Linked DNA regions of Homo sapiens. The protein of the gene in region 1 purifies or fractionates together with the protein of each later gene. This does not show direct contact. Each region holds a gene or a part of one and is shown in the gene's direction. Other genes may lie near its edges. The genes, in order: NAT16 and FUT1.

Region 1 (4,429 bases):
GAGGCGGGCGGATCACGAGGTCAGGAGATCGAGACCATCCTGGCTAACACGGTGAAACCCCGTCTCTACTAAAAATACAAAAAATTAGCCGGGGGTGGTGGCGGGCGTCTGTAGTCCCAGTTACTGGGGAGGCTGAGGCAGGAGAATGGCATGAACCCGGGAGGCAGAGCTTGCAGTGAGCCGAGATCGCGCCACTGCACTCCAGCCTAGGCGAGAGTGAGACTCCTCTCAAAAAAAAAAAAAAAAAATTATTCCCTGCATCTCCAAAGCAGTTTACAGTTGCTAAAGGGCTTTGTCCATCACTTTCCTGGCTCCTTACAGGGTAGAACTGAAGGTGTTCTGATCTCACTTTATTTATTATTTTATTTTATTTTGAGTTGGATTCTCGCTCTGCCGCGCAGGCTGGAGTGCAGTGGCACGATCTCGGCGCATTGCAATCTCTGCCTCCCGGGTTCAAGCGATTCTCCTGCCTCAGCCTCCCAAGTAGCTGAGATTACAGGTGCAGGCCACTGTGCCCGGCTGATTTTTGTATTTTTAGTAGAAACGGGGTTTCGCCATGTTGGCCATGCTGGTCTTGAACTCCTGACCTCAGGTGATCCTCCCACCTCGGCCTCCCAGAGTGCTGGGATTACAGGCATGAGCCACCGTGCCCGGCCAGGCCAGGCTAATTGTTGTATTTTTAGTAGAGACGGGGTTTCACCATGTTGGCCAGGCTGGTCTCGAACTCCTGACCTCAAGTGATTCCCCCGCCTCGGCCTCCCAAAGTGCTGGGATCACAGGCTTGAGCCACCGCACCCAGTCTTGAGCTCACTTTATAGGTGGGATGGAGAACCTTGTAGGAGTTAAGAGCCTGGGCCACCGCCTTATTAGAGCAGGGGCAGCGCTGCACCCACCCGGGTCCCAGCTCCACACTTCCCTCTTCCTCCCCAGCCACCAGGATCAGCGTGGGGTGCAGCGCCTCCTGAGTGCAGAGGTCTGTGTGAATGTGCCTGGGTGTGCGCTGTGTACCTGGAGGTCTTTCTGCCTGCTGTCCCGTGGGGTACATTGTGGATTTAGGGGCCTTGTGCACCCGGGGAACCAGGGTGCTCAGGCACCCACGCAGTGGTGAGAAGATGGAGAGATCTTGGCCTCCCTCTGCCCTTTTCAGCCTTTCAACTTCTGTCTCTTGATGTCTCTTCGCCTTCCCGGTGTTCTAGGGTTTCTGATTCCCTCTATCAGTTTCCGGGGACGAAGGCTCGGAGTCCCCTTCCCAGCCGCTCTTATAATGGAGAGAGGAGATTCCATTGAGGGGTGGCTCCTGGAGGAGGGGTACTTCAGGGCAGTGGGGGACCCCCGGACAGAGAACGGAGGTGCTGGGCGTGGGGTGGGGAGATAACTAAGCCAGCAACACCAGCATCACCACCACCAAAACCCGAGACACCACCATCCTCAGTCCCACTCCCCAGCCGGGACACAGGGCGGAGTCTCGCCAGTAGGGCTTGAGGCCACCCAGCTGCCCAGGGCGCACCCCGACCCCCGGCCCCGCCAGCAGGGCACGAGTCCGCTCCGGATCCGTCCCGGGTTTCTTCCGCGTCGCCGGGGTCTCCGCCCCTCGAAGCTGCCGCCGGAGCGTCGCCGGGGGAGCCACGCGTGCCACCCGAACCCCTGAACCGATGGGCGCCCCGGCCCGCGTCGCCAACGGAGCTGCGGCGCTGCCCCAGCGCTGACCGACGTTAGAGTCGGGCTCCGACAGCGCGGCCGAGTCCCCGCGCGTCATCCTCCTTTGACTCTTGGGGGCTCCAAAGGGACCTCTCTCTTGGCACCGGGGGTGTCTGCGCCCGCCGCCCGCCCCGCTTGGCTTTGCGGCATCTCGGCCCTGGCTCCAGCTCCGGCTCCGGCGAGGTAGGGGGGCGGCCGGGCCTGGGGACTGGGGAGGGGGCTAGCGTGCTCCTCCACCGCAGAATGGGGCAGCAGAAGGCCACCGCCCCTCAGGGGGACCAAGCGGCTGCGCCCCCTTCTGCCCAGCCCCTCCCAGTCCGAAGACCCAGAAAACTGAGTCAGAGGCTGCGCTTCAGGTGTCCAGAAGCGCTCCCCCGCCCCCCTCTGTTGCCATGTCGCTCCCACCTGTCCCCAGGGTCCGGCGCCCAGGGGAACCCCCGCCAAGCAGATCGCTCCCTTTGCAATCTCCCTCTCCCCCAAGCCCAAGCCCCCAATCCGGGGTAGAGGCAGAGGGAAGACCCTCACTCGGGAAGACCCTGCAGGACAGCCCCCCCTTCTCCACTACTGTGGCCCTCTGGGGCCCTCCCCCCACCCCCTTTGGCTGGGCCATCTTCCTCGGCCCCTGCCTCTGCCCACCCCCTAGGCCTTCTCTCCCGCCCCCACTTCATCGCCTCTCCCCGTCTCTGTTTCCAAGGTTGTTCTCTTACGGCCTTTTTTCTGACTTTCTTTTCCCCTTGACCCCTTCCCCTCCACGGATCCCCGCCCCCCATACCCCGGGGCGAAGGGGGTGTGTCACGCTGCTTTCTATTTACAGTGTCCCAGGGGAGGGGGTGCGTGCTAGGATTTTTTTTTTTTCATCTGCTGGGCCCAGAGTCACGAGGTGTCATGTCTGTGATTCGGTGTCGAAGCCTCCTCCGGCTTCCCTGCCTGTCCCCTGCGGCCGCATCTCCTGTCCGCTTTTGTCTGCTCTCTGCCTCCATTCCCGTCCTTTTCGCTCTCATCTTTGGGCGCTTTGTGCAGCTGCCTTCTTTGTCTCCGCCTCTCCGGCGACTGGGCTCTCCCTTCCCTCCCTCTCCTCCCTCCCCCAGTGTCAAGAAGCCATCGGCCTCAAGGGCATCGATATTTCAGGTGTGTGGGGTGTGGTGGGAGTGGGGTGCGGGTGGGTGGGCTGCCGGCATTCCCAGCTCTGACTCCGATCATGCCCAGCTATGACTCTGATCACCCCCTCCCCAAAGAGATCATTCATATTTATGAGATTTAAAGAATGTCCCCAAGGATGTGGGGATAGACATGAAGAGAGAAATGTTATTCCTCTTTTTTTTTTTTTTTTTTTTTGACAGCGTTTCACTCTTGTTGCCCAGGCTGGAGTGCAATAGCGTGATCTCGGCTCACCACAATCTCGGCCTCCCGGGTTGAAGCGATTCTCCTGCCTCAGCCTCCTGAGTAGCTGGGATTACAGGAATGCGCCAGCACGCCCGGCTACTTTTGTATTTTTTTTTTTTTTTTTTTTTTTTAGTAGAGAGAGGGTTTCTCCATGTTGGTCAGGCTGGTCTCCAACTCCTGACCTCAGATGATCCGCCTCCCTTGGCTTCCCAAAGTGGTGGGATTATAGGCATGAGCCACCACGCCCGGCCAAGAAATGCTGTCCCTCTTTTAGGAGGGCGCTTGGTCCAGGAGATACCTGGACTACATTTCTGACAGTGCCCTGGACTCACCAGCTGCCTCCGCCTCTGCCTAGACATCTGATGAGAGTTAAGAGTTCCACGGAGCCAGGCTGGAGGGTGCTGGACTGGAGGGTAGGAAGTGGTCACCATGTGAAGCAAGGGTTACAGGCTAGCCCACAGCTTTGGCTTGGCCTGGAGTCGCTGACCTGTTTTATTACTCGCCTCCTCCAAGGTTTAAGGACCTGGGAACCTTTGTTCATGTCCCCCAAAATGGAACAGGGGTAGAGGTGGTGCCTGGGTTGAAAGATGGGGGATGCATTGGAAAGTTCTTCCCTCCCCATGACTCTGGGAACTCCCCACGTCCACCCCTACCCTTACCTCCCACGACAAACAACCTTATCTGAGACGTATAAATGCCATTTGGAAAGGGTCTCCCCACTGTAAGCAAGGGAAGGAGACTGGAGCCAAATGTCTTGAATGAGTCAGGTGGGTTCCAGTCTACCGGTTGCTCACAACTTATCACCTTTGGGGGTAGTGAGGGTATTGCTGGAAGCACCACTGAACCACTAGCTTGCATTTTCCTGGGACCCATGAACAGCTGGTTCATGTTGCCTGGAGCTGCAGATGGAGTCAGGAGCTAACTTGCTGTTCTCTGGGACCCATTGTCCTCAGAGCGTGGTGCAAGAGGTCTGGGGCTTGGGCTGGTTCCAGGCATGGAGGCTTGTGTGTTGGCATAGGGATTGCTGACAGTGTGGGCCAGACAGTGAGGGAGTTCCTAGCAACCGCATCTCTGGTTCTTCATCAGCTTATCCCACCTGGGCCCTTCAACTCCTGTTCAAGGACCCAGTAGTTCCCCTCCTTGCTCTTCAGGCTGGGGTCAGAGATCCAGATACACTAAAAACAGATCTTGGCTGGGCATGGTGGCTCACACCTAATATCCCAGCACTTTGGGAAGTGGAGGTGGGAGGATCACTTGAGCCCAGGAGTTCAAGACCAGCCTGGGCAAAATAGTGGGACCCCCATCTCTACAAAAAATTAAACATTTTAGAAAGTAGCCAGGTGTGGTG
Region 2 (4,490 bases), on another chromosome or scaffold:
ATAGCTAGGACTACAGGCGCCCTCCACCACGCGCCCGGATAATTTTTTGTATTTTTAGTAGAGACAGGGTTTCACCGTGTTAGCCAGGATGGCCTCCACCTCCTGACCTTGTGATCCGCCCGCCTCAGCCTCCCAAAGTGCTGGGATTACAGGCGTGAGCCACCGCGCCCGCCCGAAATAGTGAAAGTCTTAAAGTCTTTGATCTTTCTTATAAGTGCAGAGAAGAAAACGCTGACATATGCTGCCTTCTCTTTCTGCTTCGGCTGCCTAAAAGGGAAGGGCCCCCTGTCCCATGATCACGTGACTTGCTTGACCTTATCAGTCATTTGGACGACTCACCCTCCTTATCCTGCCCCCCCTTGTCTTGTATACAATAAATATCAGCGCGCCCAGCCATTCGGGGCCACTACCGGTCTCTGCGTCTTGATGGTAGTGGTCCCCCGGGCCCAGCTGTTTTCTCTTTATCTCTTTGTCTTGTGTCTTTATTTCTTACAATCTCTCCTCTCCTCACAGGGGAAGAACACCCACCCGCAAAGCCCCGTAGGGCTGGACCCTACGTTAGCCTGCCCTGCTCGGGGTTGGCGATGCTGGAGGTGGGCCTTGGACCAGAGAAAATGCTTTAATTAGGTGACAAGCGGGCAGAGGCCTTTGTCTCTGGCGCCGGCAGCCACGGCCCCCGCTGACGGCGTGGGAAACAGACCCTGTTCCACTCCGGTCTCCAGCCTTGGAATGGTTGCCTTCGTGCAGTGCAGGTCTGGAAAGTAGCAGTTTGGCACGGGACCCTAGAATTCCCCAAAAGGAGTGACTAGGGGCTGGGATTCTGGAATTTGAGTGTGGACGGTGAGGCGGGGGGTGTGGGAGATCGGAGACCCTGGTGGGCGCGGGAGCACCTGCAGGCTGGAGGCCCTCGCGCGCTCCGGCGGCAGCCTGGCAAACAGGTTCTCCATCCCCCAGGAGGACGCGGCAGAGGGCGGACGATCGCTCCACTCGCCGGGACCAGGTGCGGGGGCCCTGCCCAGCCGCTGGGGCGTGGCCAGGCTCGAAGCACCCAGGTGTCGGGGGCCGACTCTAAGCCCTGGCACCGGAAGAGAGAGGGCGGCGGATTGGACCTCCCGGCTCCAGCATTGCAACTGGGCGCTCCGTCTCCTGGTCCACGCAATGATGCTGCGGCTGCTCAGAAGCCAGGTAGCCTGCCCTGGGTGAAGCCTTCGCGCAGGTCAATGACGGGGCGGAGGGGCAGGGCGCGGTCCCCTGCATCCCCGATCTGGGGAGCGGTGGGCCCAGGGGCCATCGCCTTAGCCCCTGGCGCTGGGGCTCGGCGCCAAGTGACGGGCGGGGCTCCACCTTCCAGCCATCCGCCCGGCCCGGGAGGGCGGACGCTGCGAGACTCCCGGCCGCGCCCTCTCCTTCCTCTCCTCCCCAAGCCCTCGCTGCCAGTCCGGACAGGCTGCGCGGAGGGGAGGGCTGCCGGGCCGGATAGCCGGACGCCTGGCGTTCCAGGGGCGGCCGGATGTGGCCTGCCTTTGCGGAGGGTGCGCTCCGGCCACGAAAAGCGGACTGTGGATCTGCCACCTGCAAGCAGCTCGGGTAAGTGGGGACTGCCCCACTCAGTTGTTCCTGGGACCCAGGAACAACTCCTTCAGAACCAGGAGGTGCACCCCCAACCTCTTCTCCAGGTCTTCCTAAGGCCCTAGGAATCTCCGCCACCTCCCCAGCCATTACTCCTCCAGGAACCAAGATGCTCCTTCCGCTCCTGACCCTCCAGCCTCTCTTGTTTTACTTGAACTATCGTTTCCCATCACCACCTCTGTGGTGGATTTTGCGCCTCACAGACAGGTACTCCTGAGAAACAGGCTGGTGGAAGAGTCCAGTATCAGCGGAACTTACAGGAGGGGAGACTCGAGATTCCTTCAGGAAAGGTGTAGGAACCTGGACCACTTTCTTTTTTTTTTTTTTTTTTTTTTTTTAAGACAGGGTCCCTCTCTGTCGCGCAAGCTGGAGTGCAGTCAGCGGTGCTATCGCGGCTCATTGTGAGCTCCGGGGATCCTCCCGCCTTAGCATCCGGTGTAGCTGAGACCACAGACATGTGCCACCATGCCAAGCTAATTTTATTTATTTTTTTTTGGAGACGGAGTTTCACTCTTGTTGCCCAGGCTGGAGTGTAATGGCATGATCTCAGCTCACCGCAACTCCCGCCCCCCGGGTTCAGGCGATTCTCCTGCCTCAGCCTCCCGAGTGGCTGGGATTACAGGCATGCGCCACCATGCCCGGCTAATTTTGTATTTTAAGTAGAGACAGGGTTTCTCCACGTTGGTCAGGCTGGTCTCGAACTCCCAACCTCAGGTGATCCACCCACCTTGGCCTCCCAAAGTGCTGGGGTTACAGGTGTGAGCCACCGCGCCTGGCCCATGCCAAGCTAATTTTAAAATTTTTTTGTAAGAGTGCTCTGTTGCCCAGGCTGATCTTGAACTCCTGGGCTCAAGGGATCCTCCCATCTCAGCCTCCCAATATGCTGGGATTACAGGTGTGAGCCACAGTGCCCAGCCAAACCATGGCTATCTTGAAAACCACTTGTCTTCCAGTCCCCATGCCCCGAAATTCCAAGGCTCTCATCCCTGAAACCTAGGACTCAGGCTCTCCCTACCTCAGCCCCAGGAGTCTAAACCTTTAACTTCCTCTTTCCCTGGGACTAAGGAGTGCTGCACCCCAGGCGCCTCCCTTACCCCACATCCCTCCTCAGCCTCCCCTCCTCAGCCTCAGAGCATTTGCTAATTCGCCTTTCCTCCCCTGCAGCCATGTGGCTCCGGAGCCATCGTCAGCTCTGCCTGGCCTTCCTGCTAGTCTGTGTCCTCTCTGTAATCTTCTTCCTCCATATCCATCAAGACAGCTTTCCACATGGCCTAGGCCTGTCGATCCTGTGTCCAGACCGCCGCCTGGTGACACCCCCAGTGGCCATCTTCTGCCTGCCGGGTACTGCGATGGGCCCCAACGCCTCCTCTTCCTGTCCCCAGCACCCTGCTTCCCTCTCCGGCACCTGGACTGTCTACCCCAATGGCCGGTTTGGTAATCAGATGGGACAGTATGCCACGCTGCTGGCTCTGGCCCAGCTCAACGGCCGCCGGGCCTTTATCCTGCCTGCCATGCATGCCGCCCTGGCCCCGGTATTCCGCATCACCCTGCCCGTGCTGGCCCCAGAAGTGGACAGCCGCACGCCGTGGCGGGAGCTGCAGCTTCACGACTGGATGTCGGAGGAGTACGCGGACTTGAGAGATCCTTTCCTGAAGCTCTCTGGCTTCCCCTGCTCTTGGACTTTCTTCCACCATCTCCGGGAACAGATCCGCAGAGAGTTCACCCTGCACGACCACCTTCGGGAAGAGGCGCAGAGTGTGCTGGGTCAGCTCCGCCTGGGCCGCACAGGGGACCGCCCGCGCACCTTTGTCGGCGTCCACGTGCGCCGTGGGGACTATCTGCAGGTTATGCCTCAGCGCTGGAAGGGTGTGGTGGGCGACAGCGCCTACCTCCGGCAGGCCATGGACTGGTTCCGGGCACGGCACGAAGCCCCCGTTTTCGTGGTCACCAGCAACGGCATGGAGTGGTGTAAAGAAAACATCGACACCTCCCAGGGCGATGTGACGTTTGCTGGCGATGGACAGGAGGCTACACCGTGGAAAGACTTTGCCCTGCTCACACAGTGCAACCACACCATTATGACCATTGGCACCTTCGGCTTCTGGGCTGCCTACCTGGCTGGCGGAGACACTGTCTACCTGGCCAACTTCACCCTGCCAGACTCTGAGTTCCTGAAGATCTTTAAGCCGGAGGCGGCCTTCCTGCCCGAGTGGGTGGGCATTAATGCAGACTTGTCTCCACTCTGGACATTGGCTAAGCCTTGAGAGCCAGGGAGACTTTCTGAAGTAGCCTGATCTTTCTAGAGCCAGCAGTACGTGGCTTCAGAGGCCTGGCATCTTCTGGAGAAGCTTGTGGTGTTCCTGAAGCAAATGGGTGCCCGTATCCAGAGTGATTCTAGTTGGGAGAGTTGGAGAGAAGGGGGACGTTTCTGGAACTGTCTGAATATTCTAGAACTAGCAAAACATCTTTTCCTGATGGCTGGCAGGCAGTTCTAGAAGCCACAGTGCCCACCTGCTCTTCCCAGCCCATATCTACAGTACTTCCAGATGGCTGCCCCCAGGAATGGGGAACTCTCCCTCTGGTCTACTCTAGAAGAGGGGTTACTTCTCCCCTGGGTCCTCCAAAGACTGAAGGAGCATATGATTGCTCCAGAGCAAGCATTCACCAAGTCCCCTTCTGTGTTTCTGGAGTGATTCTAGAGGGAGACTTGTTCTAGAGAGGACCAGGTTTGATGCCTGTGAAGAACCCTGCAGGGCCCTTATGGACAGGATGGGGTTCTGGAAATCCAGATAACTAAGGTGAAGAATCTTTTTAGTTTTTTTTTTTTTTTTTTGGAGACAGGGTCTCGCTCTGTTGCCCAG

The links.
Region 2: the proteins of NAT16 (region 1) and FUT1 purify together in Homo sapiens (affinity purification with mass spectrometry; one large-scale study listed by BioGRID and IntAct). This does not show direct contact.

The regions. Positions count from the first base shown.
Region 1 is NC_000007.14:101,177,494-101,181,922, reverse strand, and holds the start of NAT16 (probable N-acetyltransferase 16), read left to right. Parts: upstream 1-1,629; 5' UTR 1,630-1,881; intron 1,882-2,686; exon of another isoform or gene 2,687-2,826; intron 2,827-4,429. UniProt on the Homo sapiens protein: Probable N-acetyltransferase. Shows only trace activity toward L-His and no N-acetyltransferase activity toward other amino acids. The physiological substrate of this enzyme is unknown.
Region 2 is NC_000019.10:48,749,587-48,754,076, reverse strand, and holds the start of FUT1 (galactoside alpha-(1,2)-fucosyltransferase 1), read left to right. Parts: upstream 1-1,435; 5' UTR 1,436-1,587; intron 1,588-2,793; 5' UTR 2,794-2,795; coding exon 2,796-3,893; 3' UTR 3,894-4,490. UniProt on the Homo sapiens protein: Catalyzes the transfer of L-fucose, from a guanosine diphosphate-beta-L-fucose, to the terminal galactose residue of glycoconjugates through an alpha(1,2) linkage leading to H antigen synthesis that is an intermediate substrate in the synthesis of ABO blood group antigens.